Homo sapiens: one gene and its partners. Changing the gene in region 6 together with the main gene of any one other region gives a genetic interaction. Each region holds a gene or a part of one and is shown on either strand. Other genes may lie near its edges. The genes, in order: CIT, CYP4F12, CAMK2G, NR5A1, CD22 and STMN1.

What was found.
Region 1: changes in STMN1 (region 6) and CIT together harm fitness more than expected from each alone (negative genetic interaction), as found in Homo sapiens cells (one large-scale study listed by BioGRID).
Region 2: changes in STMN1 (region 6) and CYP4F12 together harm fitness more than expected from each alone (negative genetic interaction), as found in Homo sapiens cells (one large-scale study listed by BioGRID).
Region 3: changes in STMN1 (region 6) and CAMK2G together harm fitness more than expected from each alone (negative genetic interaction), as found in Homo sapiens cells (one large-scale study listed by BioGRID).
Region 4: changes in STMN1 (region 6) and NR5A1 together harm fitness more than expected from each alone (negative genetic interaction), as found in Homo sapiens cells (one large-scale study listed by BioGRID).
Region 5: changes in STMN1 (region 6) and CD22 together harm fitness more than expected from each alone (negative genetic interaction), as found in Homo sapiens cells (one large-scale study listed by BioGRID).

What each region holds. Positions count from the first base shown.
Region 1 is NC_000012.12:119,687,958-119,692,744, forward strand, and holds part of CIT (citron Rho-interacting kinase), read right to left. Parts: intron 2,498-4,787; coding exon 2,194-2,497; intron 299-2,193; coding exon 275-298; 3' UTR 1-274. UniProt on the Homo sapiens protein: Plays a role in cytokinesis. Required for KIF14 localization to the central spindle and midbody. Putative RHO/RAC effector that binds to the GTP-bound forms of RHO and RAC1. It probably binds p21 with a tighter specificity in vivo.
Region 2 is NC_000019.10:15,689,295-15,694,081, reverse strand, and holds part of CYP4F12 (cytochrome P450 4F12), read right to left. Parts: intron 1-4,787. UniProt on the Homo sapiens protein: A cytochrome P450 monooxygenase involved in the metabolism of endogenous polyunsaturated fatty acids (PUFAs).
Region 3 is NC_000010.11:73,842,753-73,847,539, forward strand, and holds part of CAMK2G (calcium/calmodulin-dependent protein kinase type II subunit gamma), read right to left. Parts: exon of another isoform or gene 4,596-4,787; coding exon 4,473-4,595; intron 1-4,472.
Region 4 is NC_000009.12:124,504,597-124,510,133, forward strand, and holds the start of NR5A1 (steroidogenic factor 1), read right to left. Parts: upstream 2,804-5,537; 5' UTR 2,653-2,803; intron 1-2,652. UniProt on the Homo sapiens protein: Transcriptional activator. Essential for sexual differentiation and formation of the primary steroidogenic tissues. Binds to the Ad4 site found in the promoter region of steroidogenic P450 genes such as CYP11A, CYP11B and CYP21B.
Region 5 is NC_000019.10:35,338,482-35,343,268, reverse strand, and holds part of CD22 (B-cell receptor CD22 isoform 1 precursor), read right to left. Parts: intron 2,389-4,787; coding exon 2,131-2,388; intron 1,927-2,130; coding exon 1,663-1,926; intron 1,568-1,662; coding exon 1,304-1,567; intron 1-1,303. UniProt on the Homo sapiens protein: Most highly expressed siglec (sialic acid-binding immunoglobulin-like lectin) on B-cells that plays a role in various aspects of B-cell biology including differentiation, antigen presentation, and trafficking to bone marrow.
Region 6 is NC_000001.11:25,898,373-25,903,463, forward strand, and holds the end of STMN1 (stathmin), read right to left. Parts: intron 3,311-5,091; coding exon 3,119-3,310; intron 2,716-3,118; coding exon 2,644-2,715; 3' UTR 1,744-2,643; downstream 1-1,743. UniProt on the Homo sapiens protein: Involved in the regulation of the microtubule (MT) filament system by destabilizing microtubules. Prevents assembly and promotes disassembly of microtubules. Phosphorylation at Ser-16 may be required for axon formation during neurogenesis.

The DNA of each region.
Region 1 (4,787 bases), on a different chromosome or scaffold from region 6:
AAAAGTTTGTGAATGCTTTGAAAGAGTAACAAAGTGCAAAGAGATGACTGCAGGGAGGTGCCCAGGGCAGGCACCGGGCGCTGACAGCTCCGAAGAGCCTCAGCCACCTGCCCCTCCTGGAGACAGGGGTGTCCGTGCCGAGGTGGGTCTGGGCCCCGCTGAGCCAGAGGGTGGCTGAGCACGTGGGCGCTTGGGTCCCCATCAGCAGAGTTCCATAGTGTGTTTGGTGTTTTCCTGCAGATCAAGATGAGGAGTTGGTTTTTCTGGCTGAGATTTATACTGAAGACTGGTCCCAGACCTAGGAGTGAAATAAGGAGGAGTGTTAGCCATCCGAGGCCAGAAGTTGCTGTGCTCACCTTGCATGATGCAAATGGGAATCTGCAGCCCCTGGGCTATCCCCTTCAGCAGCTAGCAGTGAGTGCTTGGCAGGGCAGCACCCGCTCCAGAGCCTGGGGAAGCCAGGGAGTGAAACTCACTGGAAAATCCCAAAGCCGTGTGTGTACCTGCGATGCTGTAAGCATGTGATACACACACATGCACATACACAGTTTCATCGGTCAATTGGGAGGGATAAGAAGCCATATGGATGGTGTTTCCTTCTTTCTTTACCAGCAGGTGAACTGCAGGTGGCATCAGAAGGAGAATGCCACCCAGAAAATCAGCCCCAAATGGCAGAAAGGTGGCTCCTTGACCTGCTTAGCCTGCTAAGGAGGCACCAAGCACTTGAGCCATGCCCTGCCTGGGGGAGCCCCTGGTCTTCCACACCCATCCCTCTCCTCGATCGCAAACCTAAAATTACACAGATCATTCATGCACATGATTTAAACATTTCCAAAAGTTCAAAGTTCTTCTGGAAGGCAACCACTGTGAACACTTTCTGTGTAGCCTTCCAGAAAAACAATTTATATATACACATGTGTGGGCTGAGCGTGGTGACTCACGCCTGTAATCCCAGCATTTTGGGAGGCCAAGGTGGGAGGATTGCTTGAGCCCAGGAGTTCAAGACCAGCCTGGGCAACATAGCGACATTATGTCTCTAAAAAAAATAAAAAGGGCCGGGGGTGGGGGTGGGAATCAGACAGATGGTGGCTTGAGCCTGTAGTCGCAGCTATTCAGGAGGCTGAGGCTGGAGGATCACTTGAGCCCAGAAGTTCAAGGCCGTGGTGAGCTATGATCACACCACTGCACTCCAGCCTGGGCAACATAGTAAGACCCTGTCTCTAAAACAAAACAAAACAAACAAACAAACAAACAAACAAAAAGTGGGGGAAAAAGTTAGCCAGACATGGTAGCTACAGCCCATATTCCCAGCTACTCAGGAGGCTGAAGTGAGAGGATCACTTGAGCCCAGGAGTTTGAGGCTGCCGTGAGCTATAATCACGCCACTGCACTCCAGCCTGGGGTAACAGAGCAAGACGCTGTCTCTCAAAAGAAAAAAAAAAAAAGAAAAGCATATGTGTGTATGTGTGTGAATCTATATCTATGTTTGAAAAAAGCATGCAACATTTCATATAGGATGCTATCATTTGGGTTTCAAAAGGAGAGCACACATATATATTTGCTGGTACGCACAGAATATCTCTAGAAACTGCTACCACTTGCCTCTGGAGAAGGGAAAACATTTTTTGGTAGCTATTATATTTTGAGTTACATGCATACATATTTTCCTTTTCAATTACACACACGTTATCCATTTGCTTAGGAAGCTCTTTTTTTTTTTTTTTTTTTTTTTTTTTTTAAGACAGAGTCTCGCTCTGTCACCCAGGCTGGAGTGCAGTGGCGCGATCTCGGCTCACTGCAAGCTCCGCCCTCCGGGTTCACGCCATTCTCCCGCCTCAGCCTCCCAAGTAGCTGGGACTACAGGCACCAGCCACCACACCCGGCTAATTTTTTGTATTTTTTTCGTAGAGACGGGGTTTCACCACATTAGCCAGGATGGTCTCGATTTCCTGACCTCGTGATCCACCCGCCTCGGCCTCCCAAAGTGCTGGGATTGCAGGCGTGAGCCACCACGCCCGGCCAGGAAGCTATTTCTTAAGGTACATTTTCTTCCTAAATTCCTGTGTCTCGCAAAGTCTGAATTACAGTCATGGAGTTCCTTTTTTAAACAACAGTGGCCCCGTGGGGGCCTCAGTTCCCCAAGTCACTCCTGGCCTCCGCAACAGACACACAGGCCTCGGAATGCTGCCTCACCTTGTTCACCTGGGACAGCGGGGTCCTCACGGCTCCCGCAGGCAGCCGGCCCCTGCTGCTGTCTTCAAACAGCCTCCCGGGGGACCGCTCTCTCCGCGTGCTGAGCATCCGGCCGGGGGACTTCTCTCGCTCCAGGGGGCGGCCAGGAGACTTGTCCCTGCGCAGCTCGGTCCGCCCCTCGCGGTAGCGGTGGGGTGTGCTTGGCTCTCGCGGGTGGCTGGGGCCTTCGGGCGGCGCTGGGCTGGAGGCCACGCGCTTGGTGATGTGCTCGTTGTACGTGGGTGGGCCTCGCTTGTTGGGGCTGCTGGCGACACAAGAGGAACGTAGGGAGCTGCGAGGCCACAACCCCAGAGGGGCATTTTCCTTCTTACCTGAGCAACCCCCTCCTTGACCCAGCCTCACCACTGATTATCAAGAGATTAGACCTGGAGTTCTTTGGACTTTGCCTGCATTTGATTTTGGTAGCAAAGACAGGGAAGAGAGCAAAGATGGCAACAAAAGACAACCCACCTTCCTCAGTGCAGGCTTTCATTTACTGAGCACCTACTGTGTGCCAGGCCTGTGCTAAGTTCTTCATCTGCCATCTCTCATTATCTCATTAAATCATCACAGCAGCTCCTGAGCTATGAACAAGCATGACCCTCACTGTACAGGCAAGAAAATGGGGACAGACAGGAGTTAGGTGACTTGCCTGAGCTAATGAGTGGTAGAGCTGGGATTCCAATAAAGACCAGTTTGATAGGCCAGGCGCAGTGGCGCACACCTGTAATCCCAGCACTTTGGGAGGCCGAGGCAGGTAGATCACGAGGTCAGGAGATCGAGGCCAGCCTGGCCAACATGGTGAAACCCCGTCTCTACTAAAAATACAAAAATTAGCCGGGCGTGTTGGCGTGTGCCTGTAGTCCCAGCTACTCAGGAGGCTGAGGCAGGAGAATTGCTTGAACTGGGGAGGCGGAGGTTGCAGTGAGCCAAGATCGGACCACTGCACTCCAGCCTAAGTGACAGAGCAAGACTCCGTCTCAAAAAAAAAAAAAAAAAAAAAAGACCAGTTTGATGTCATAAGCCCCATATAATATCCTACTGACCTACTATTTCCCAGAGCCTAGAAGGCACAGAAGGAAGTCATCAACTAGGAGGTCAGCCTACTAAGACCCAGAAGTCAGGGACCCACAAAGGCCCTCAGTGCAAGGAAGCAGTTTGGAGAAACCCTGTACTGATCACTGTTAACTGCCATGTCTGTCCCACTCCTGGGCCTCGTGTTTGGTCACCTCTGCCCCCATGTGGCTTTCCAAGAGTCTCTGACACCTGATGCAAATGCAGATGCTCAGAAGGTGGATGGTTCTCAGTCATGACAATAAGACGACCGAGAGGTGTAGGGATCAGGCCTGATAGAGTCAGGAAACTGAGCAGGGCAGACAAAGTAAAGCGGGCTCAGAAAACGTCCCAGGCCTCAAAGGTTGATAATTAGTAACCAAGCAGTTGAAAACACTGCGGCCTTTTTGTACAACCCAACCCAATCCTCCACCCACTCCTGGCCTGGATATTTCAAATGAAGATTTCAGCAGACCCAGGGGCCAAACTCCCTCTCTGAAGATGTAGTAAGACCTACAAACACAGAGAGAACTGAAATGTGGCCTTCTGAGTCAATTCTTTCCCACCCTTGATCAGCTCTAAAAGTACTAGGGTCCCTATTATCTCAGCATAATTTGTGCTTGGAAAAGGCCCTACTTAAAATGGAGGAAAAAAATTACAGTGAATATTACTTGAAAACATATTTTGTTTGATTGAGGCTTTATCTTGGAATATAAACTTATTTTATGCTAGATATTTTTAGTATTTAAATTACAATGCAATTACATGCTGATTCCAAAAATGAACCAAGCATGAATCACAGAATGATTTGTTTTGTGCTAATTGTCTCAACAAAATTGCTGCTAACATGCTCTGACACCAACGTTGGACACATTGGACTTTTGCAGTGGATCCTAAAGAAGGCTCTTCAAAAATATTTGAAAAAGCCGGGCACAGTGATGCATGCCTGTAGTCCTAGCTATTAGGAAGGCTAAGGAAGGAGAATTGCTTGAGCCCAGGAGTTCAAGACCAGCCCGGGCAATATGGCAAGACCCCGCTTCTAAAAAACTAAAACTAAAAATTAAAACAAGAAAAGTGTTTTCCCAAAGGACTATCTTAATCCTTGATATTTAAATCCTTCTCATTGGAAGAGGCTATAATTTTATCAACTTGTTCATTTCTTTCTTCAATTATTGGTCTAACTGTATCAGAACCTCTTCTGTCAACGTCCATAATTGAGAAGCGACAGCAAAGACAGTGTTTATTGTGGAAGGAGAGACTCTAGAACAGGCTTGAGGGCCAAATCCGGAAGATGCTTGTTTTTATAAATACAGTTTTATTGGAATGAAGCCATGCCCATCTGGTTATGCATTGTCTTACAGCTGCTTCCGCATGACCACAACAGGGTTGAGCAGCTGAGACAGAGACCATATGGCTCACAAAGCCGAAAATATTTACCATCTAAACCTGTGCAGAAAAAGTTTGCCAATTCCTCCTCTACAATATAACAGAGAAGTTGGTGT
Region 2 (4,787 bases), on a different chromosome or scaffold from region 6:
CAAAACAGCATGGTACTGGTACCAAAACAGAGATCTAGATCAATGGAACAGAACAGAGCCCTCAGAGTTAATGCCACATGTCTACAACTATCTGATCTTTGACAAACCTGAGAAAAACAAGCAATGGGGAAAGGATTCCCTGTTTAATAAATGGTGCTGGGAAAACTGGCTAGCCATATGTAGAAAGCTGAAACTAGATCCCTTCCTTACACCTTATACAAAAATTAATTCAAGATGGAATAAAGACTTAAACGTTAGACCTAAAACCATAAAAACCCTAGAAGAAAACCGAGGCATTACCATTCAAGACATAGACATGGGCAAGGACTTCATGTCTAAAACACCAAAAGCAATGGCAACAAAAGCCAAAATTGACAAATGGGATCTAATTAAACTAAAGAGCTTCTGCACAGCAAAAGAAACTACCATCAGAGTGAACAGGCAACGTACAAAATGGGAGAAAATTTTCGCAACCTACTCATCTGACAGAGGGCTAATATCCAGAATCTACAATGAAGTCAAACAAATTTACAAGAAAAAAACAACTCCATCAAAAAGTGGGCGAAGGACATGAACAGACACTTCTCAAAAGAAGACATTTATGCAGCCAAAAAAACACGAGAGTCAGGCAATTTGAAATGTGGTAGTAAATGTATCATTTTGGCAGATAGTGATTTTATACTTAGAAAACACTAGAGGCCCCACTGGAAAACGTTTATAAACATTTAAGATCAAGCAAAGGAGCTGAATTCTCTGCTTAATCTTTCTTCTTTTGCAGTGGCTATTTAAAATTTTCATACCGTCTACAATTATCTGGTTCAGAATTTGAAAACTATAAAACATAATTCACTCCTATGGCCCAATGCCATTTACTTCTCCCCACACGTTGCCAGGTTATTATTTTTTTTAATGTATGCTTTCTGGGCTGATTTTAAGCATCTTAAAAAATTATATAGGAGCACACCATCTACTGTAGACACTATTCTGTATCTTTTTTGATGGGGGGAGGGAATGGAGTCTCTGTTGCTCAGGCTGGAGTGCAGTGACACAATCTTGTCTCACTGCAACCTCCACCTCCCTGGTTCAAGTGATTCTACTGCCTCAGCCTCCCAAGTAGCTGGGACTACAGGCATTCACCACAACAGCCAGCTAATTTTTTTTTTTATTTTTAGTAGAGATGGAGTTTCCCCAATTTGGCAAGGCTGGTCTTGAACTCCTGATCTCAAGTGATCTGCCCACCTTGGCCTCACAAAGTACTGGGATTACAGTCATGAACCACCGTGGCTGGCGTGTATCTTTTCTCTCATTTAACAGTTTATCACTTTTTCATAGCCCCTGGGACTTACGTCAAAATAAGGTTATCCCTACTCTGGCGCTATGAAATAATTTTCTCATGGTTCCTTCTAGAGCTTTTAGGACTCTTTTAGAAAAAAATGATTAATCTGAACATTATCTTGTCATAAGATATGAGAACAAGGTTCAGTTGCCTTTTTTCCAGAAGGCTTTCCAGTTGCCCCAAGAGCTTTTACTTAATTATCTATATTTTTTCTCTTGATACAGATACCATCTTTAGCATATACTATGTTCACTGGGCATAGAATTTATATGCATAAATCATTAGTTTTACCATATAGAAATAACCATCAAATGAAAAGATAATAAAAGAAAAGATACTAGTCATAATAATATAAAATACCTGGATTAAACTTAAAAAGAAACATGAAATCTCTGTATTTCATTATAAATTTCCCTCAATCCAAATAAAACATACACTTTATCACACAATAAATGTTTGCAGGGGTTGATTTAACAACAAAAAAAGCCACTCTGCCAGATATTAAAACCCATTAGAAAGTCAGAGTATTGGGAGGCCGAGGTGGGTGGATCACTTGAGGTCAAGAGTTTGAGACCAGCCTGACCAATGTGGTGAAACCTCATCTCTACCTAAAACAAGAATTAGCCAGGCGTGGTGGAGGGTGCCTGTAGTCCCAGTTACTCGGGAGGCTGAGGCAGGAGAATAGCTTGAACCAGAGAGGCAGGAGGTTTCAGTAAGCTGAGATCGCACCACTGCACTCCAGCCTGGGCGACAAAGCTAGACTCCATCTCAAAAAAAGAAAAAAGAAAAGAAAAGTCACAGTAAGAAAAAATAGTCTGGCAATGCCATAAAAACGGATGCATTCAAAAGACTAAAAAGGTCAGAGACGGGCATGTGAATAAGTGGAAACTTCCCATCTGCCAAAGGAAGCCCCACAAAACTCTGGGAAATAGCTGGGTAGTGTGGTACAAAAGAAAATACGAACAAATGTAACTTCATAAAAATTAACCAAAAGCACCCCCCAAAAAAGTCAAAAGGCAATCTTTTGCAACAAAAAAACAGAAAAAAAAAACATTAATTGTGATACACATTCTTATAAGTAAATAAGAAAAAAGAACCCAAAGAAAAACAGCAGAAAATATCAGATGACCACTCCCATAGAAAGAAAATAAATGGCTTATCAACTTGGGCAAAGGATGTTCTTTCTCACTCTTATTTAAGAAAATGCTCATTAAAAGATGAAATATGAAGATGGACAAAAAATTTAAATTTAATAATACAATAATACTATTGGCAAATTTGTGGGAAAGCTAGTGCCATCAAACTCACCTAATATAGAGATGGATTTGCAATCATTATTACAACTGTAGAATGCAAATGGTCTTTGGTTCAACAATTGCACTTTTGGGAATTTGTCCTGCAGTGATGTTTATACATATGAGCAATGCTCACTGTACACACATGCCGATTGCACAAGTTTAATTTAGCAAAAGGATGAAACAAGCCAAATATACATGGATGGGGAGATGTTTAGATAAACATCCACACAATGGAATAGTATACAGCTACACAAAAGGAGAAAAAAAGGATCACTAGTCCTGTCACACAATGCAGACCAGAAGCTAAATCAGTACAGAGACTCTGGAATGCAAATTGGCCATACCTCCAATGATTGGAAATGTTTACGCAAGTGTCTTCAACAAAGGGATGGGCCAAATAAAACATGGAATGCTATTCAGCACTCAGAAAAAATATCTGTCAGACACAGTATTGAGTGGAAAAAAACATGTTCCCAAATGTCCATATATGTAAATACCATAGGACAAAAAATATAAGGAATATAAGAAGAGATCGATGATAGAAAGATATGTAGATAGATGTAAACAGACAGACAGATAGATGACAAATAAGTATCTCTACAGGCCCCCTTGGAGAAAGGGAGGATATTAGGTGGGATAGCAGGAATGTCAAGAATAACCCTTGTCTATCTGTGATGCCTCATTGAGTGCAAGAAGAAACTGTTCTCATCATTGCTTTTGTAATTCAAAACTCATTTTCCGTGTGGTGTATATATACAAAATGGAATGCTAGTCAGCCTTAAAACAGAAGAAAATTCTTTCATTTGTGGCAATCTGCAAGAACCTAAAGGACATTATGCTAAGTGAAATGAGCCAGGCACAAAGAGACAAACAGCACATAACCTTAATTAACTGTGAGATCTGAAATAATTAACACAGAAATCATAGAAACCAAGAAGAGAATGGTGGTTACCAGAGAAGGGAGGAAGAAAGAATGGAAAGACATTGGTCAAAGGGTACAAGTTTCCGTTAGAAGGAATAAGTTTTGAGATCTATTGCATGCATGGTGACTACAGTTAATAATAATAAATTTCTCAAAATTGCTAAGAGAGCAAATTTCAAATATTCTCACCACAAAAATGATGAGTATATGAGATGACGGGTATGTTTATTAAATTGACTTAATCATTCCACGTTGTATACATATATCATAATATCACATTGCACCCCATAAACATATATAATTAAAATTTGCCAATTAAAAATAAAAACGAACTAATTTTCCAAAACTCATATTTTTAGAAAAAGAAAAGCTCCCAAAGATATATTGTTAATGTGCAGATCTGTCTCTTCTTTACTTCCTTTTATTTCAATAGCATTTGGGATATAAGTGGTTTGGTTACATGGATGATTTCTATAGTGGTGAATTCTGAGGTTTTAGTGCACCCATCACCCATGCAGTGTATACTGTCCCCAATATGCAGTCTTTTCTCCCTTACCCGGCTCCCAACCTTGCTCTCCGAGTCTCCAAAGCTCATTATATCACTCTGTATGTATTTGTGTCCTCACAGCTTAGCTCCCACTTATAGGTGAAAATATATGGTATTTGGTTTTCTATTCTTGAGTTACTTCACTTAGAATAATGGCCTCCAGCTCCATCCAAGTTGCGGCAAAAGACATTATTTCATTCCTTTTTATGACTGAGTAGTATTCCATTGTGTATATATGCCACATTTTCTTTATCCACTCATTGGTCAATGGGCAGTTAGGTTGGTTCCGTACCTTTACAATTGTGAATTGTGCTACTATAAGCATGCATGTGCATGTGTCTTTTTCATATAATCACTTTTCCTTTGGGTGGATACCTAGTAGTGAGATTGCTGGATGGAATGGTAGATTTACTTTTAGTTCGCTAAGGAATATCCTTATCGTTTTCCACAGAGGTTATGTTAATTTTCATAGCAGTGTATGAGCATTCACTTTTCAATACATCCACAACATACATCTATTGTTTTTTGACTTTTTAATTATGGCCATTCTTGTAGAAACAAGATGGTATCTCATTGTGGTTTTAATTTGCATATCCCTGATGATTAGTGATGTTGAGCATTTTTTCATATGTTTCGTGGCTGTTTGTGTATCTTCTTTTGAGAATTATCTGTTCATGCCCTTTG
Region 3 (4,787 bases), on a different chromosome or scaffold from region 6:
AACACCATAACGGATGCTAGACGGGCTGCTGAGAGACCGTCCTATTCTTCCTTGGGAAACAGAGGCTACCGAACAGGAGAGTACCCTGGGGGCTGTGATCCTCATTCAGTCACTCCTTAGGCAGCTGTTTACTGAGCACCTACTGCGTTCCAGATGCTCAGCAGCGAGAGAACGGCAGGGTTCCTGCTCTCTACAGAGGACATTCCTTCCTTCCAAGAGCCCCTCTCCACACACCCCCAGCAAGGTCCTGAATGAAGCCATGATCCCAGAAGCTAAGGATCGTCACCTTGAAGCATCAATTCTTTTCATCATTCTGGATGTAATTTTTTTTTTTTTTTGCAATGGAGTCTCGCTTTGTCAGTCAGGCTGGAGTGCAGTGGTGCAATCTCGGCTCACCGTAGCCTCCGCCTCTCAGGTTCTCCTGTCTTGGCCTCCCGAGTAGCTGGGACTACAGGCACATCCCACCACACCCAGCTAATTTTTGTATTTTTAGTAGAGACAGGGTTGGCCATGTTGGCCAGGCTGGTGGTCTCGAACTCCTGACCTCAAGTGATCTGCTCACTTCGGCCTCCCAGAGTCCTGGGATAACAGGTGTGAGCCACTGTGCCCCGCCTTTTTTGGATGGAAATTTGTCTTCAATGTATTTACTGCTAACTTCCTGGCCTCCTTAAACAGAGTCCATGGGACACAGTCTACACTTCCTCAATGACTCAGCTGTCAATACCAGCATCATTATGTAATTTCAGAATATAGTGATGTCCTCAGGGGCTCGAGACACACGGGACTGCAGAGGGTAGGGCCTGCAAAAATGACCCCAGAACAGAATATTTCCCCCATTCTTGGGTGCCTGTTTCAGGTTGCTTGCCCTCTCCCCTTGCTGTTGCTGTCTTCACCAGCCTGTCAGAAAAACAAATCCTGGCACCTGCAGCCAGGTGCCCACCAACACTACGGGGCCTCCTCGCATCCTTTCCCTCACCCTTGGCCCACTCTTTCCAGGTCCGGAGGCAACTCTCCCCACCTTCTCTACCTTCCCCAAGTCTCTCATTTTACCTCCTCCTCGGTGTAAATTTCTCCAAAAGCAAAATGAGAGGTCATCAGCAAGAACCCCTTTCAGCTCAGACTTCCACTCACAAGCCGATCTTCACCTGCCTCCACACTAATAGAAGTCTCAGGGGGATCATGGTCATCCCCGGGATGGACCCCCTGCCCTTGGCTCAGGAGCCCCCTCTCTTTTTCTGCTGTCCAAACCTTTGCTTCCTCAATTAGCAAGGATCTTCAACTCTTTCCTCTGGACTAGATTCTTCTCTATAGATTATAGTTAAGCCTCTCCTTAAACAAAAAAATTTTTTTTTTTTTTTGAAACAGCATCTCACTCTGTTGCCCAGGCTGGAGTGCAGTAGCACAATAATGGCTTACTGCAACCTCCACCTCTCTAGGCTCAGGTGATCCTCTCATCTCAGCCTCCCAAGTAGCTAAGGCACGTTACCACAACCAGCTAATTTTTAAAGTTTTTTTTTTTGTAGAGATGGGGTTTTGCCATGTTGCCCAGGCTGGTCTCAAACTTCCGGGCTCAAGTGATCTACCTACCCTGGTCTCCCAAAGTGCTGGGACTACAGGTGTGAGCCACCGCTCCTGACCAATATAATCTTTAAAAAGAAATTTTTTCTTCTTTAGAGGCAGAGTCTCCCTCTGTCACCCAGGCTGGAATGCAGTGTCATTATCTTGGCTCACTGCAACCTCCACCTCCTGGGTTCTAGTGATTCTCATGCCTCAGCCTCCCAAGTAGCTGGGATTATAGGTGTGTACCAACATACCCAGCTAATTTTTTGTATTTTTAGTAGAGATGGAGTTTCACTATGTTGGCCAGGCTGGTCTTGAACTCGTGGCCTCAAGTGATCGCCTGCCTTGGTCTCCCAAAGTGCTGGGATTACAGGTGTGAGCCTTACATTAAAAGCTCCCCTGGCCCATCTTAATCTAAGTATCACCATTTATTTCCCACCTCAATGCCTAGCTCCCCATGCCCCTCCTCACCCTCACTCCCTCTTCGTCTCACTGAAAACAGGGTTTCATCTTTCTCTCCACTGTCTCAGTGAAATGATGAAACAATGGCATCTAATGGTCAGAGCCAGGGGATTCTTCCCCAACTTAATCAGGGACTCTTCTGCATCTGATTCCTGACGCTCCCTTACTGAGACCCCCTGTTTCTTAGCTTCTGGGTCTTCTGGAAGGTCTCACTCTCAGTGCTCTTTGCTGGGCCCCCTAACTCTCCCTATCATTAAATGCTGGTGTGTAGTGGCCGTCTCTTCTCTACTACAGCCAATAGAAGCTCACCGTAAGAACTCAACCAGCATAGGAACAGGCCCATCTACAGCATAGGAAGAGGCTATTTCTACAGCCTCACTACCAACTACACAGAAATGACTACAATGTGGATTTCCAATTTTTAGCTTCTTTTCTAATCTCTAGGACCATATTTCTAACCACCCACTGAATGTGTCTGGCTGGAGGTTGCCAGACTCAGCAGGCACAAAATGAAAACCATCATCTTGGCCGGGCGCAGTGGCTCATGCCTGTAATCTCAGCACTTTGGGAAGCCGAGGCGGGTGGATCATGAGATCAGGAGATCGAAACCATCCTGACTAACACGGTGAAACCCCATCTCTACTAAAAATACAAAAAATTAGCCGGGCGTGGTGGCGGGCACCTGTAGTCCCAGCTACTCGGGAGGCTGAGGCAGGAGAATGGCATGAACCCGGGAGGCAGAGCTTGCAGTGAGACCGCGCCACTGCACTCCAGCCTGGGCGACAGAGCGAGACTCCATCTCAAAAAAAAAAAAAAAAAGAGAAAACCATCGTCTTGTCTCACAAACAAGCTCCTCCTCTGGTTTTCTTCTGGGTCAGTGAGGGTACAACTCTCCGCTCAACTTGAAACCTGGCCTCTCTCTTCTTTGCTCCCCCCAAATCCAACTGGAGAGAATTAAATCCTTTAGGTTCTCTCAAATATCTCTTGAATTTCAACACACTGCACATTCCCCCATCCTTACCCTCTGCTGAGACCTCACCTGGTCTTGCTTAGACTATTCCAACTATTAAAAAAGCTTCCTGAGCTCTCTGTCTCCAGCCCTTTTCTTTTAAAAATTTTCAATTCCCTTCTTTTTTTTTTTTTTTTTTTAAAGAGGTGGGGTCTGACCATCTTTCCCAGGCTGGAGTACAATGACTATTCACAGGTGCAATCATAGCTCGCTGCAGCCTCAAACTCCTGGGCTTATGATCCTCCTGCCTCAGCATCCCCAGCAGCTGAGACTACAGGCACATGCCACCATGCCTGGCAATTCATTTCCTCACAACTTCCAAAGTGTTCTTAAATGCAAATTTCATTCTTCTTTAAAACCCTTAAATGATTCCCTATGTTTTCAGAATAAAATCCAAACTCCTGAGGCAGAAACTTGTATGTCAGGGAATCTTTTGCCCCATTCTCTTGCATTCTGATATTTGCAGCCTCATCGACAACCAAACAACTCAACATTCCTTCAACTCACCATAGTTTCCCATAACCTCTCACTGTGCTAAACTCTGTCTGCAGGTTAACGTTCTGAGGACCTCGTTATTTGCCAAGAACAAGCACAGGGGTGTCACCTCCTCCGTGCAGCCTTCAGTAACCCCACCACCCACCAGGAACAGTAGGAGCTCCTGTACTCTCATTAGATTCTTGTACCTACTTGTCACATTGTAACATGACTGCCTGTTTGAGTGCCTGTCTCCCTAGATGATCTTTTGGGGCAGGGACCATGCCTCATTCATCTTTGTATCTCCAGCACCCAGACGGTAACCAGCACCAAAGAGGTATTTAATAAACACAGAATGGACAGATAAATAATGCCTCGTGGTTGTCAAGATGCCTAACTCTACCAAATCCTCTTCTTTGTCTGAAAGTTGATATTTCAGCTTGAAAGAATTGTGTATAAAAACAGAGTACGTCAACCCACACTGATAGCCTAGAGGACTCTCCTAGGACTTTAGCGCAGAAGCTTTATGCCTCAGCTTTTATGCTTTTAATGACTCAGAAACCCCTTCTGTTGATTTGTTGGATCTTGGTCACCACTCCAGTGGAGTTGAGATCTGAGTATGAACCCCAGCTTGGGAATTCACTTTGGGTTTTGCCAGCTGCTTTCTATCACCGGCTACCTGGAGTCCACAAGGGTCAACCTGAGCCCTCATCCAAGAACAGAACCAATCCCAGCCTGACAGCCATGAGTGGGGGAGAGAGGAGCAGTGGCCCACCAGCCCCATCAGCCTCCCGAGTCTCCCTGGTGACATTTATTGACCCTGGCCCTCAACAGTCCTCTGCCCGCCTGCTCAGTTATTGCTTGGGGCCCAGAATGAATCTCTGCTGGTAAGAAGGAGGGGGTGGTGCCGAGGGCACACAGAAGGCTGACACCCCTGAGCTCCTTGGCCACTAGCAAAGACACTTACACAGACCCACGGGTGCTTGAGAGCCTGGTCAGCCGTGATGCGCTTTGCTGGGTTTATGGTCAGCATCTGGTTGATCAAGTTCTTGGCTTCAGGAGTTACCGTGTCCCATTCTGGTGATGGGAACTAAGGAGCAGGAATAGGGAGAAGAATGTGGTATTGGTGAGCTTCATACCCTGCAACACTGGTTCTGTCTTCAACTCAACTCCTGTAATTGGGATACTCTGTGGTACCTAAAGCTGTGACTGGCAGAGTTGGAGAAGCCCTGCGGCTATTCCAGAACCTGTGTCAACTTAAAGACTTGGAAAGACAGACAGA
Region 4 (5,537 bases), on a different chromosome or scaffold from region 6:
AAGTCCGGAGGAGGGAAGCGCGAAGAGCCAGGGCCCGGGACGCGAGAGGGGGCGCGACGGCGGCTGCGGTCGGCCCGGCGCCCACCTGGTCGCTCCTGCGAGCAGCGCCCCGCGTCCCGCCCGCGCGGAGCCCGCACCTCTCGGCCGCGCCGCCGCCGCCGGCGAGGAGCCGCACCCGGGCGCAGCGCCGCCCGCCCGCGATGACGGCCGCTCGGGCCGGGGACGGGGAGGCGGGGGCGCGGGGCTGGCGGCGCGGGGGCCTCGGCTCCCCCCTCCCGCCTCCCCGCCCCCCATCCTGCCTCCCTGTTCCCCCCCGCACCGCCGCCGGGGCCGCTCCGAGGCGCACCTGGGACCCGGGCCCCTCAGCCGCCACCCCGCCCTGCGCCAACCCGCCGCGCCGGGGCCGGGGGCCGGCCCCTCTATATCGGCGCGTGCGGTATCCGGGGGCGGAGGCCCGGTCGTGTCCTCCCCCCAAGCCCGGCCCGCGCCGGCACCCTCTCCGCAGTCCAGCTCGAGTCTTCGCCCTCATCCTCCAGGCCCCCCAGCCGCAGCCCGGCTCCCCGGACCCCGAGCGCGGCCAGAGAGCTGCGGAGCCCGAGTGCCCCGCGATCTGGGCAGGTATAGGGCAGTGGGGGCCTTGGGTCACCCGCCTGCAGTGGGAGGAGGCAGCTCCTGTCTGTGAACCCAGCTGGGTCGTGGCGAATGCCACGCGGGTGGCTGGTCGCACTACAGCGTGGAAGTGGGTAAGGGCGAGTGGCGACCGTGGCCGAGGCTCGGATTCACGGGTGGAAGCCAGATTCTCCCATGGGGCCCACCACATCTCCTCACTCGAGCCTGTAGCAGCTCTCTCCCCGTCTCGGGTCTTCAGTTGCCGCATCTGTGAAGTGGGTAGATGACCGCTCTTCCTCGCTAAGGGTGGGTCGTGAGGATGAACCCAAGCAGTAGGGGCAAAGCACGCGTGTGGCCTGGCGGAAGCGCTCAGTGGCGCCCCTCTGGGGAGATCTGGGGCGAACCCCTTCTGCTCGCTAGCCTCAGGTCGCTGGGCTGGAAATGGGACTCGTGGAAATCCCATTTTACAAATGTCCGAGGCCTGGGGGGACCCGAAGCCTCTACGGGCGCAGGAGCTGGGAGAGGAGCCCGGAGGCAGGGCCCCGCTGCTCCCCTCGGAGCTCTCACGGGGGGGTGGGGCGAGGAAGAAAGCGCTGGGCGGTCTTGGGGACAAAGGGGTTCCCGGGCCTATGGGCCAAGCAGTTGCTCTGGGCTAGGGACCATCCGCGGGGCCACTGTTTTTCAGCTGGAGAAACGGACCCGAAAGGAAGGGGCCTGCTTGCATCCTGCCTCCGCCCCCGCTGGCACCTGGGGTCAGAGAGAGTTTGGGGACCATGAGGCCAAAAAGCTGCGATCTTCAAGCAGGAAAATACCGCAATTTTGCATTGACAGCGGCGCAACCCACCAAAAGGCTCCATCTGGGCTCCCGCCCGCCTGGAGGCCTCGGGCTTCGGTTGGAGCTGGGCCTGGGGCCTGCAAGTTGTGGCCAGAGAACCCCCCGCGCAGACCGCACTCAGCTGGCTCACCCACAGAAGGAGCAGAACCCGCAGACTAGCTGTGCAAGCTCGGGCAAGTCACTTCTCCTCTCTGAAACGAGAGCCTCAGTTTTCTCCGAGCATAAAGTGGAACATGTTGGCTTTACAGATGGGGTACTGCGGTTTCCATGCAAGAATCTTGGATGAGGAGGGAAGAAAGAGCCAGAGACCCTGTTAATCGTACCCCCCGCACCCCCAAACCCCTGAGAAACAAGAGCATCTGCCCGAGCTGGAGGTGGGGGTCACTGCCGCCTCTGAACAGCTCCCCACCACAATGGAGCCCTCAGACAGTGACTGCAGGAGGGAAGGGGGTTGGTGGATGATGGGCTGGGGTGCCCCAGTTGGCTGTTCTAAGGTAGAGCTCACCCGAGGTCTCCTGGAAACCTGGAGCTGGACACACAGGCCCCAGCCGCCGGGGTTGGGTGGGGGCTGGGCTCAGGCCCTTCTCCCTCTATCTCCAATCCCCTCTCCCCAAGGGTTTCTACTCTCACCGGCTGGAAGCCCATGGCTCCTCTGCACTCCAGGCTCCGAGGCACCCACCCCCACAGGTTCCAGGTTCCAGCCCACCGCCTGGGGAGTTCCAGCCCCTCATCCACCCACCCAGGGAGGGAAGCCTAGACCTGGCCCGGCCGCAGAACCCAGGCTGACAGATGGATGCCGGAGACAGACACACGGATACACAGCAAGACTCAGAGAGAGCCACAGAGACAACACAGAAACTCAGGTGGGGGACAGAGCCCCAAGACAGGCCCAGAGCCCTCCAGACACACTCACAGACCTCTAGGCTCAGACCCACACAGCCTGGTGGATGCCTGGCCAGAGACAGCGGGACACCAGCGGACCTCCATGGGGCTTGTGGTCACAGGCCTGGCTCCTCCCATCGGCAGCCCAGGGAAGAAGAGGGGGTAGCATGGTGGGAGGGTGAGTCTGGGAGACCCCTGGCACCTTCCCTGCCCAGAGCAGGGGGCACCGGTCACTAAGTGGAGCAGGCAGTGGCCGGCCCAGGCTGCAGGGAGGCACTGCAGAAGGAGGCTGGCCATTAGAGGCCTGGGCCAAGGCCCTCACTTACGAAGCGGAAGCAGCGCTCTCACACCGGATGAGGGTGGCAGTGGGCACCAGGGGTCCAGGGGGAGGCTCCGGCAGCCCAGGTGGGACGGTGGCGACTGTGGGTGCGCAGAAACCCCCTCACACCACGGCGGGCGGCAGCCGGACAGCAGGCTGGCCCTGTCCGTCCGTCCTCCTCCTCCTCCCCGCCCTGGTGGGGGGGCCACCGGAGGCCCAATTGGTCTCTGCCCCCACGTGACTCTGCAGGCCTCTCGCCTTCTTTGTTGGTGTTTCTCTTCATTTACGTCTATTTTTTCTTCTTCTCCTAAAAGAAAAAAAATACCCCTATCTATCTGGGGGCTGAGGGTGGGGGCGGAGGCCAAGGCACTGCAGAGGCCTTGGCCAGCTGGCTGTTCCAGGCCCGCTGTGGGAGCCCAGAGGCAGGGACCCCACAGAGGCGGGTAGGCAGCCCCGCTTGTTAGAAACCGGGTGGGAGTGGGGCTTGATTTATGGGCTGCTCCCCCACCCGGCCTGCCGCCTGCTCCTCTCTCCTTGTGAATGGCTACCTCCCTGGGGCCTGGCCTGGCATGGTCTGGCCCAGCCCGGACATTGGAGTAGAGTCAGGACAGGCCAGTGCGGAGGCAAGGCCATGGCGACTTGACTAGGCGGCCTGCTGCTTCCACCTCTTTTTCCTCTTCCATCAGGTGGAAGAAGAGGGGGGCCGGAAGGGGAGCAGGTGAGCGGCCTGGACACCTGGTGCGTGCATGCCACGGTGGCCTCTGAATGTCCTCATCTGCTGTGGGCTGCTGATGTTCCCAGTCGATGGCTGGAAAAACTGAGGCTGGGCTGAGACTGCCTCTGAGGCCAAGTGGTGGCTATAGTGGCCCCAGGTTGAACCAAGTATGAAGCTAGTCCAGGATAGGACAGGGTAGCAGGAAGGGGCCCTTATCTAGAAGGCTAGGCCTCCCTAGACAACCTGGGACGTCCCCATCCAATCTCTGGGCCCAGATGGGCTCTGAAATATCCTGTTCCTGTAGGGCCCGGGTTGCAGGGTGTTGTGCCGCTCCCACGGTGACTGGATCTTTTGTGTGTTCCTCTGTTTGTCTCACATTTACTGAGCGCACACTTAGGGGTCAGGCACTGTTCCAGGCACCAGGGATCCCATAGGAAAGAGAAGAAAAGTCTCTGTCCTCAGAGGATTTACCTCCGTGCCTTTCATCTTGGGAGAGCAGGGAGGGGCACAGGGTGACTATGGGGCAGTCACTGTTGAGAACCACCCCTCCTCCCACATATCCCTTCATTGGAGGAAATAAATAAATCACACCCAACACCTCACTTATCTGGAACAAGAGGGACTTTTCTGGATAAGTGAAGTGAAGCCAACTCTCCCTATATATATTTTTTCATGGAAGGCCACTGAAAAAGTAGAAACGCCAACTATATTTAAAACCTATGTGTTTTCCAGCCAGTCACTGTGGCTCATGCCTGTAATCCCAGCACTTTGGGAGGCCAAGGTGGGCGGATCACCTGAGGTCAAGAAGTTCAAGACAAGCCTGGCCAACATGGCAAAACGCCATCTCTACTAAAAAATAGAAAAATTCACCTGGTGTGGTGGCTTGTGCCTGTAGTCCCAGCTACTTGGGAAGCTGAGGCAGGAGGATCGCTTGAACCTGGGAGGCAGAGGTTGCAGTGAGCCAAGATTGTGCTACTGCAGTCCAGCCTGGGCGACAGAGTGAGACTCCGTCTCAAATAAAATAAAATAAAATAAAATAAAATAAAATAAAATAAAATAAAACCTAGTGTGTGTTTTCCTCATTATGCCACTTAAAATTGTGTGTGAACATACAACAATAATACTGATAGACTGTAGTCCCGGCTACTCGGGAGGCTGAGGCAGGAGGATGGTTTGAACCCAGGAGTTGGAGCTGCAGTGAGCTATGATTGTGCCACTGCACTCTAGCCCGGGCAATAGGGTTTTAATAATTAATAATCATTAATTCAATAATAATAATTTTTATAATATAATTTCACCAACAGTCATAGCTAACTGATCGAATATATTCCACCTACAACGTAACAGACAACTTATTCCTCAATGTGCATGACCTTGTAATTATGTCTTTTTCACCTAGAGAAGTTCTTACAAGATATACTTCTCTTGCATATGGCTGAACCTAACTAGTCTCCCTATTTTAATATTCTTTTTTTAGTGTCCCTATTTTGTTTTATGTCTTTTGAGACAGGGTCTTGCTCTGTTACTCAGACTGGAGTGCAGTGGTACCATCATAGCTCACTGTAGCCTCGACCTCCTGGGCTCAAGCAATCCTCCTCCCTCAGTCTCCTGAATAGCTGAGACTACAGGCACATGCCACCACACCTGGCTAAGTTTTGTATTTTCTTTTGTAGAGATGGGGTTTCGCCATGCTGCCCAGGCTAGTCTTGAACTCCTGGGCTCAAGAAATCGGCCGCCTCGGCCTCCCAAAGTGCTGAGATTACAGGCGTAAGCCACAGCACCTGGCCTTAGTGTCCCTATTTTTTTTTTTTTTTTTTTTTTTTGAGATGGAGTCTCACTTTGTTGCCCAGGCTGGAGTGCAGTGGCACAATTTCAGCTCACTGCAACCTCCGCCTCCTGGGTTCAAGCAATTCTCCTGTCTCAGCCTCCCAAGTAGCTGGGATTACAGGCACCCGCCACCGCACCCGGCTAATTTTTGTATTTTTAGTAGAGACAGGGTTTCATCATTTTGGCCGCACTGGTCTCAAACTCCTGACCTCAGGTGATCCACCCACCTCAGCCTCCCCAAGTGCTGGGATTACAGGTGTGAGCCACCGCACCTAGCCTAGTGTCCCTATTTTAATGCAATGATTTTGTTTCTGGACTAATATCACTCACCCTCTGAATTTAATAAGAAA
Region 5 (4,787 bases), on a different chromosome or scaffold from region 6:
AGGTGCTTGTATGATCTGTTTAAAAACCACTCAAGTTTACTACTGTGGAGGCCGAGGCAGGAGTATCACTTGAGCCTAGGGGGTCGAGGCTGCAGGAGCTGAGATTGTGCCACTGCACTCCAACCTGTGCAACAGGGTGAGACCCTGTCTCAAAAAAAAAAAAAAAAAATCAGCCGGGTGCGGTGGCTCACGCCTGTAATCCCAGCACTTTGGAAGGCCGAGGCGAGCGGATCACGAGGTCAGGAGACTGAGACCACGGTGAAACCACATCTCTACTAAAAATACAAAAAATTAGCCGGGCATGGTGGCAGGCGCCTGTAGTCCCAGCTACTCGGGGAGCTGAGGCAGGAGAATGGCGTGAACCCGGGAGGCAGAGCTTGCAGTGAGCCGTGATCACGCCACTGCACTCCAGCCTGGGTGACAGATCGAGACTCCGTTTAAAAAAAAAATCATTTACGTTTTAAAAGATAAAAACAAGGAGCCTGTCAGGGCTGAGAGAGACAGAGTAGTCAGAGAGAGAGAGACAGGGACCCAGTAGGAGCTCAGGACTTCTGGAAGGTGGAGCAGCCTGAGAGGGGACCCTAGAGGGAGGCAGGAGAGACTGCAGGGGAGGTAGAAAAAGAGAGACTGGTGACGCAGGACAAGACGACTCCTCCAGCACAGCGGCAGATGGCCTGGAGCAAGGGGTGTGAATGGGAAAGGGGACAGTGAGGTGGGGAAGAAGGGGCCAGCTGGTCTGGAAGGCTTTTCGGGAAGTCACTGGAGGAGACAGGGCCAGAGAGGAGCATGAGAGGAAACAGGGAGAGGCACAGTGGCTCATGGCTCTAATCCCAGGGCTTTGGGAAGCTGAGGCAGAAGGGTCACTTGAGGTCAGGAGTTTGAAACCAGCCTGGTCAACATAGTAAGACCCCATCTCTACAAAAATGTAAAAATTAGCCGGATGTGGTGGTGCATGTCTATAGTCCCAGCTACTCAGGAGGCTGAGGCGAAAGGATTGCTTGAGCCCAGGAATTGGAGGCTGCAGTGAGGTGTCATTATGCGACTGCACTCCAGCCTGGGTGACAGAGTAAGACCTTGTCTCTATAAGAAGAAGAAGAAGGAAGGAGAAGGAGAAGAAAGAGGAGGAGGAGAGGGAGAAAGCAGAAGAAGAAGAAGAAGGAGGAAGAGGAGGAGGAGGGGAAGAAGAGGAGGAGGAAAAGAAAGAGAGAAAGAAAGGAAGGAAGGAAGGAAGGAAGGAAGGAAGGAAGGAAGGAAGGAAGGACTGACCACCACCAAGAAGAACAAGAGCAGGAAGAGGCCTTACAGTAGACGGTGAGGGTGCTGAGAGGCGAACGGCCCTTGCCCACACTGTTGGTCCCCTGGCACCAGTAGGCACCCGAGTGCTGGACCTTCACCGGCTCCAATCTCAGCTTCTGGCTGTGGTAGGGGAGGCTTTGGTTATTCCAGTCAAACCAGGTGTAGTGGGAGACGGGAGGGTTGGCGTCGCTCTCACAGGTCAGGGTTGCACTCTTCCCCTCCATCACTTGGTCCCCCGGGCTCATGGACACACGCAGCCTCCTGGGTGCATCTGCATGGCGGGCAGGGGGAGGGGGTGCGAAGTCACTACCAGGCAGGCCACTGGTCCCTTCTCTGCTCCACTCCCAGCCTCCGGCCCTCACTCACACAGCACTTCAAGTGTCCAGGCCTTGGACGCTGTCTGTCCTATGGAGTTGTTCACCCAGCAGCTGTAACTCCCAGCATCTTCTGGGGAGATGGAGTCAAAATTCAGCTGGCTTTCTTTCCCCAGAAGCCTGCCATTTTTCTCCCAGAAGAACTGGACTTCTTTGGGGTGGCTGCTTGAGAAGTCACATTGGAGGCTGACCGAGTTTCCAGAGTGAATCTCGGAAAGGGGCTTGATTTTCCGGACCCTCACGTCTCGGGGGGCATCTGGAGGGCAAGGGTCCCAAGCTGACCTCTCCGCTCCCTGTCCCTTTTGCTGTCCCCAGGCCTCCCCTCCCCTTGGCCCTGACGCCAGGCTCCTGTCCCTCAATTCTGTTGAAGACACTGGCCCAGGCTCCGGCCTCGTTGCCTTCATCCCCTCATCCCAGCCGGGCCACCTCCCAGATCCCCCTGCCTAGCCCAGGGACTCACACTGGACATTCAGGGCGACAGGGGAGGCCCACGAGCACCAACTATTACAAGCTGCGCAGGCGATGGTTGTGTTGTCCCAGCCAACGTTTTGGATCTTCAGCACCCCAAGCGATGGCTCCTCCCAGGCGCCATGGGGTTTCCATTCATACCGGGTAACACTGGGGTTACTGGAATTGTAGTTACAGGAAAGGGTCACTGTGTCTCCTTCTCGAATCGGCATGGGGTTTTGAATCACTGTGGTCACCTTCTTGGGAGGATCTGGAAGAAAACCAGAGAGGTGAGTAAAGAAAAGCCAGCTGTCCACAGTACCCCTTCCCTCCTGCTTCCTCTTCTCCCGCTACCTGTCCCGGGCATCTGCACAGGTCCTAAATTAATCAAAGGGGGGCTTGTGCGTCCTTCCTGCATCTGTGTGAGAACAGAAACCCTGCCCTGGCTCTCTGGCCTGGCTGTGGTTTGGTGCAGGGGTTCAGGGCACAGCGCTGAAGCCAGACGGCTGCTGAGAGGCGCACGGGCATGGGCTGCAGGTCTCAGTTTACACGTCTGTCAAATGGGGTCCTGAGGCCGGGCATGGTGGCTCACGCTTGTAATTTCAGCACTTTGGGAGGCTGAGGTGGGCAGATCACCTGAGGTCAGGAGTTCGAGACCTGGCCAACACAGCAAAACCCTGTCTCTACTAAAAATTTTAAAAATTAGCTATGCATGCTGGTGCATGTCTGTAGTCCCAGCTACTCAGGTGGTCGAGGCAAGAGAATCGCTTGAACCCGGGAGGTGGAGGTTGCAGTGAGCCGAGATCAAGCCACTGCACTCCAGCCTGGGCAACAGAGGGAGACTCCATCTTAAAAACAAGAGGCAGTGCGGGGTGGGTGGGGGGTGAGTCCTGAGAGTTCCTAACCTCCTGGGAATTGTTTCAAGAAGGAAATGAGATGACTCCCTTAGAGCAGAGTGTGGCGTGTGGCAAACACTCCACAAACATCACTGTGGCTGCTGTGGTCACGCATCCAGCTGTCTGAGATGCTCAGGATTTGGGCACCCCTGTCCTGTTAGCACATATGACATCTCAGGGTCCAAGGATCGAGCTTATGTGTTCTTTTTGTCCTGTGCTCTACATGGTAACAAGATTCACTGTGTTAAAAGGGTCTTACAATGGAGAGGTAATGAGACAGTTTGCCCCAGTTCTCATTAAAAATTTCAAGATCTCTCAAGACTCAGCCACTGCCTAGGGACGCTAAGTCTCTGTGTCCCTCATGGAGTCCTGGTATCTTGCAGTTAATTATTCTTTTTTTTTGGAGACAGAATCTCACTCTACCCAGGCTAGAGTGCAGTGACATGATCTCAGCTCATTGCAACCTCTGCCTCCTGGGTTCAAGCGATTCTCCTGCCTCAGCCTCCCAGGTAGGTGGATTTCAGGTGCCTGCCACCATGCCCGGCTAATTTTTTGTATTTTTAGTAGAGACAGGGTTTCGCCATGTTGGCCAGGCTGGTCTCGAACTCCTGACCTCAGGTGATCTGCCCACCTTGGCCTCCCAAAGTGCTGGGATTACAGGCGTAAGCCACCATGCCTGGCCAATCCATTCTTTTTTTTGAGACAAGGTCTCACTCAGTCACCCAGGCTGGAGTGCAGCGGCATGATCACAGGCTCACTGCAGCCTCTACTTCCAGGCTCAGGTGATCCTCCCACCTCAGCCTCCTGGGTAGCTGAGACTACAGGCATGCATGACCATGCCAGGCTAATTTTTTTTTGTAGAGATGGGGTTTTACCATGTTGCCCAGGCTGGGCTTGAACTCGTGGCCTCAAGTGAGCTGCCTACCTTGGCCTCCCAAAGTGCTGGGATTACAAGTGTGAGCCACTGTGCCCAGCTCACACCTATAATCCCAGTCCCAGCATTTTCTTTTTCTTTTTGAGACCCAGGTCTTGCTCTGTCACCCAGGCTAGAGTGCAGTAGCAGGAACATAGTTCAGTCTGCAGCCTTCACTTCCTGGGCTCAAGTGATTCTCCCTCCTCAGCCTCCCCAGTAGCTGGGACCACAGGCACGCACCACCATGCTCAGCTAATTTTTGTATTTTTTTGTAGAGATGGTATCTCGCTGTGTGGCCCAGGCTGGTTTCAAACTCCTGGGTTCAAGAGACCCTCCTGCCTCAGCCTCCTAAAGAGCTGGGATTGCAGGCGGGAGCCACCGCACCTGGCCTCATTCATTCAACAAGCATCTACAGGCCGGGTGCGGTGGCTCACGCCTCTAATCCCAGCACTTTGGGAGGCCGAGGCGGGTGGATCACGAGGTCAGGAGATCGAGACCATCCTGGCTAACACGGTGAAACCCCGTCTCTACTAAAAGTACAAATAATTAGCCGGGCGTGGTGGCGGGCGCCTGTCATCCCAGCTACTCAGGAGGCTGAGACAGGAGAATGGCATGAACCCGGGAAGGTGGAGCTTGCAGTGAGCCGAGATTGTGCCACTGCACTCCAGCCTGGGAGACAGAGGGAGACTCCATCTCAAAAAAAACTAAAACACAAAAAAACAAGCATCTACCAAGCACCCTCCATGAGCCAGGCCCTATGCTAGGAGCTGAGACAGCAGTTGTGAACAGGAGACCCTGGCTGCTCCTTGCTCTTGACTCCAGGACCCCGGAATGCCCTGCACCCCATCTGCCTTCCCCGTT
Region 6 (5,091 bases):
TTTCACCAAAGCACTAAAGCACCCTGGTGAGTACAAGTATGTGGTCGAGAGCCTCACCCTCAGGTAAGTAAGCATTCTACAGCTCTCCTTCCCCTCACATGGGCACGTGATATGCTGGTCCCACCCCATCTTTTCTCCATCCCTAGCGCAAAGGCCAGTGTGGAGCACAATCTAGGTGCTTGTCAAATGTTAATTTAAGGGCCTCCTTCACGTCCTTCAAACCTCTCTCCACTGAGCCCAGTCAACCATAAGGCCCAAGTACAAAATCCTCAGGAAGGGACAAGCCTCATTTTCCATTCAAGACAAAAGGAATGGAGTCTGCTCCTTGGTGACAGCCCCAACTGCTTGTCAAACCACTCTGGCCTTATTAGGCCAATCTATTGGAAGTACTGCTGGGAGAGGCTGGCCCCACTGGGACAGACGCAGACTCCCGTGATGGCAGAGAATGCCGGGCCCGGGAATGCATACCCAGAGACACTTCCCCAGAAGCTCGTAGGTGCCACCGCTCCTCCTCTTCACTCCAAGCCAGATGCAAAGAATGGGGGAGTGAAAGTTACTTAACTGATCTCCCCCAACCATCTCATTTTATCCAGGAGAAAATGGGGGCCCAGGACTAAGTGCTTCTCCAAAGGTCAAGGTGAAATAGAAAAGCCAGAGCTTCTATTTCTGTGGTAAGATGCATCCCCTTCAGTTTCCTGTGACTTAAGCCTGTCACAAGGCAGGGGCTCAGGATCGCCCTCTGATAGGAAGTCAGGGCCACCATGGGATGGGTGGTAACTGATGAGGCATCCTTTCAGGCCTGTTGATCCTTCCCTTGCTTTCTCCTGAGGCCAGTTTCCCTCCCTAAATGTCTTAGATGAACAAAAGCTCACTGCCACTTGTAGGACACCTCGTATCATTATGCCAAGTTTCTACCCTCAGGCCCTCTTTATATTCCCATCTATTCAGAACTGGTATTTTAAAGATCCCAGAGCACCTGCTATGTGCCAGAGACAGGAGCCAAGATGAACTGTGCTGCACCACTGCACACAAGCCTCATCCTGTCCTCTTGGTTTAGATATTGCTCAGAACCTATTGTTGTATTCAACTATACTTGCACTTGCTCCTATTTGCCCTACATGGGCGTAACTCCTTAAACCAAGCTTTGTTCAGAATTCCTCTGATTGATCATTTAAGTAAATTTAAAAGTCAATTTAAGGAATATAAAAACTGCATAATTTCCAACTCAAGAGTATAAACTTAGATCACTCATTAGCCTCTGGTTGAAAACAGTAATCGTGATTTATACGGAATGCTAAATATCTATGTTCTAAGTGTGCTCTCTTGCCACAAACCCATTTAATCCTAACAATCTTAGGAGGTAAGTTGAGGTAGGCTGTTATTGTTCTCATGAATAAGTTTGGTAAAACCCCAATCTCAAGATACAGCCCAAGCAGCAGAGGCACATGCGTTAGCAACACATGGACCCCACCGCAGTATTAGCAATCATCTTTTGCTATAAGTGCTTGGCTTCCAAGAGCTTTTATACAGATGTCTGAGAGGCACAAAATATGTATAATTAGGCTATTTCTCAAATAGCACAGGAAAGCTGCCAAAGGCGTTCCCTGAATTGAGAGGCAAAGCACTGACAATGGGGACTATTACAGCCTCTGGATACAAGATGACGTATCTGCCAACCTTAACCACCCGAGTCAAATGCTACTTTAGAAATAATTAAGGTTCCCTTTAGTCATTTCACAGGAGTTGCTACAGCAGTACATAAAGTTTTATTAATATTCTGATTCTCGTGTCATAGCTTTTATGGCAGGAAAGGATGAGGACATGCCCCACCTGTAACGTAGAGCAAGCAAACCACCAAGTAGAATCTTGAGATTCTCTCTCAACTGTTCTCTAGAAACACGCTTGTGCTTTTAATCTGCCTTTTAAAAGGGACACAGAACAAAAAATGGTTGTTTGCAAATAAACATCTGAAAGAAAGTAACAGCTGACCTGGGCTGAGGCATCCAAACAAAGCAGTCATTGTGGAAGGAGACAATGCAAACCACACTGGGGCAAGAAACGGGGCAGAGAACGTGCGGTCATTTGTGCGTTGGGTATTTCTACCAGCCCCAAAGGCCCCATCTGGAACAAGTATCAACCAGGAGGGGCTCTATGGCTTGATTTATTAACCTAACTCAAAAGAAGTCACTGCCACCAACAGCACTGTGCAGTTTTATTAACCATTCAAGTCCAGTAGCATCTGGTAAGATTGGGACAGAATTGGGATTGAAAAGTGAACAGATATTCAGCATCTAACAGTTCAAAAGAAGCCACTACATACTCTTTTCACAAATATGTTTTCACAGAGCCAATACAGTACTAGCCATTAACCCAGTACACCAAGTGTACTGAAGTAGAAAAGATGCAACAAGAAAAATAGCTACATTAGAAAGACCAACACTTTAGAAAAAGAGTAAAACACTTTCAGTTTCTCCCCTTTAGCCCCTAAAACAACATCTTACAGTCTGGATCTGGATCTACCTATACAGTCCTACATTAGCTTCTAAAATATTTGTCAGGAGGGAAAAAATAAAATGACACTGGCCAGTACAGTCTTTGGATATTTAGGAAGGGGATGGGGAGAAAGTCAGTTCTCAGAACAAATTAGTCAGCTTCAGTCTCGTCAGCAGGGTCTTTGGATTCTTTGTTCTTCCGCACTTCTTCAATGTGCTTATCCTGTAAAGGAAGGGTAAGGTGTCATCAGTCAAAAAAAAAAAAAAAAAAAAAAGCCTGTCAAGTCACGACCCCCAGCCCCCACCTCAAAGAGGCCCAACACAACCTCAGTGCATATATTACAGCCTGTGGGAACCACACAATTTAAGTTCTGAGACATCATCATCAAATCTCCTGGGTCCCTTGTAGAACCTAACAAGCTGCCTACTGGACTTCCAAGGACTGTGCAATTATGCTGGGAATTACTGAATATTCCATCTTAAAATATACCTTTCATTTAATATGTTAAGCCCCAAAATGGATGACAAAAAGACACCAAACACCTTTTATCAAAGCACTTAGTTCAAGCCAACTCATTGGTGCATCAAACTCCAAGCTCAACCCTTTTACAAAGTAAGAAACCAACCTTCTCTCGCAAACGTTCCAGTTTGGCAGCCATTTGTGCCTCTCGGTTCTCTTTATTAGCTTCCATTTTGTGGGTCAGTTTCTCTTCTGCCATTTTACTGAAGTTGTTGTTCTCTTCTATTGCCTTCTGAAGCACTTCTTTCTCGTGCTCTCGTTTCTCAGCCAGCTGCTTCAAGACCTCAGCTTCATGGGACTGGAAAAAAAAGTTTAATAGGCTAGGCACTCTAAAATGTATTCAGGCTGGGTGTGGTGGCTCACGCCTGTAATCCCAGCACTTTGGGAGGCCAAGGTGGGTGGATCATTTGAGGTCAGGAGTTCAAGACCAGCCTGGCCAACATGGTGAAATCCTACCTATACTAAAAATACAAAAATTAGCCGGGCGTGGTGGCGGGTGCCTGTAGTCTAAGTTACTTGGGAGGCTGAGGCAGAAGAATTGCTTGAACCCGGGAGGTGGAGGTTGCAGTGAACTGAGATCGTGCCACTGCACTCCACCCTGGGTGACAGAGACTCTGCCTCAAAAAATAAAATGTATTCAGCATAAGTTAAAATTACAATAAAAATAATTTACTAAGGGGATTGAAAAGGGGCAGAAAATAAGGTCCCTTTAAATAACACCAAAATTAGGACCTGAATTATCCCTATCATAAAATACTGTGAAAATGATATTCTTTTTCTAGTATTTGTATTTAACTTTGGAAAAGTGCTTATCTGTTCAGAAATCTTACCCAATTAGTCCTTAAGGAAATCCTTGTAAGATTTACTGCTTAATGGTATCTGGATGACTTGAGGAATATGTACTTGCGAGTGGCACTTTTATTGTAAAGAATTTCACTATTTAACTTCAAAAGCTACCCAAAGAAAACTAGCTCATTGTAAAAATTTTAACCATAACTGATAAAACAATGATAGGAAATTCAAGACTAAGTCTGTAGATTACTATTTAAGACAGAAAAATTTGTTTCAAGGAAAAGGCTTATTAGCTTTTGTCTCAGGAAACTGCATTAATTACCAGACCATACCTTGGTATGACCCCTTCAACAGAACAGCTTGTTCTCAAAACACATTGGAACCACTGACTTGCAGGATAACCACAGAGCATCTGACACTGGTTCTATTGATTCTCTTCTGCCAAATCCTAGTCATGATGGGAGTTTCATTATATTTAGCCAGTTACTATGTAAAGCACAGGCTAATGACTACAGGGCCAGGGTTGATGTCTAAAAAGCTTTCCACTGTCCAACCTTTGGTTGTATTGCTTCCTCCTACTCCATGAACTCACACTATTGCATAGAAGACGACTCCTTAGTGTAAGCACTGAGGCTCTTCGGGCGGGTGTGTGTGTATACTACAAATCACTATGCTGGTCTGGGGAAGGTTATTACCTTACCTTTTGTGCCTCACTTGCCCCAGCTTTAAAATCAATCCTATCAGGGTTGTTGAGAAAGGGAGTTAAATGAAAAGTTATGTACAGTTGTTAATGAGTAACATTGAATGGAAAGAAACACACCAAAATGTTAACACTGGTTGCTTCTCGGAAGCGGGATAATGAATACTTTTAATTTCCATTTATAAATTTCTGTATTTCCCAAATTTTCTACAACTAGCATATTAATATTTATTGATTCTTCTGATTAGCTTTTAAAGATAGTTACTTTATAATAGAATTGTTTAGATAAGAGAAAAGCTACCATGATACCAGCTGAGCAACACAATCACACTAGCAATTTAAAATGTTATTGTACAGCTCTCAAAAAACAAAACCAAAGTGCCAAAGAATCATCTGGCAACAAATCTTTTCAAAGAGGAAGCATGAGAGAAGCATGAGCTTTGGTTTAAGATAGACCAGGGCTTGAATTCTGACCCCAACACTTACTAGTTGTATGACTGCAGAAAAACGACTTAACATTCCTGAAACTGTTTCTAATTTCCATTATTTGAGGCAACACCATGTATTAAAGGAGAAAAATATAAACA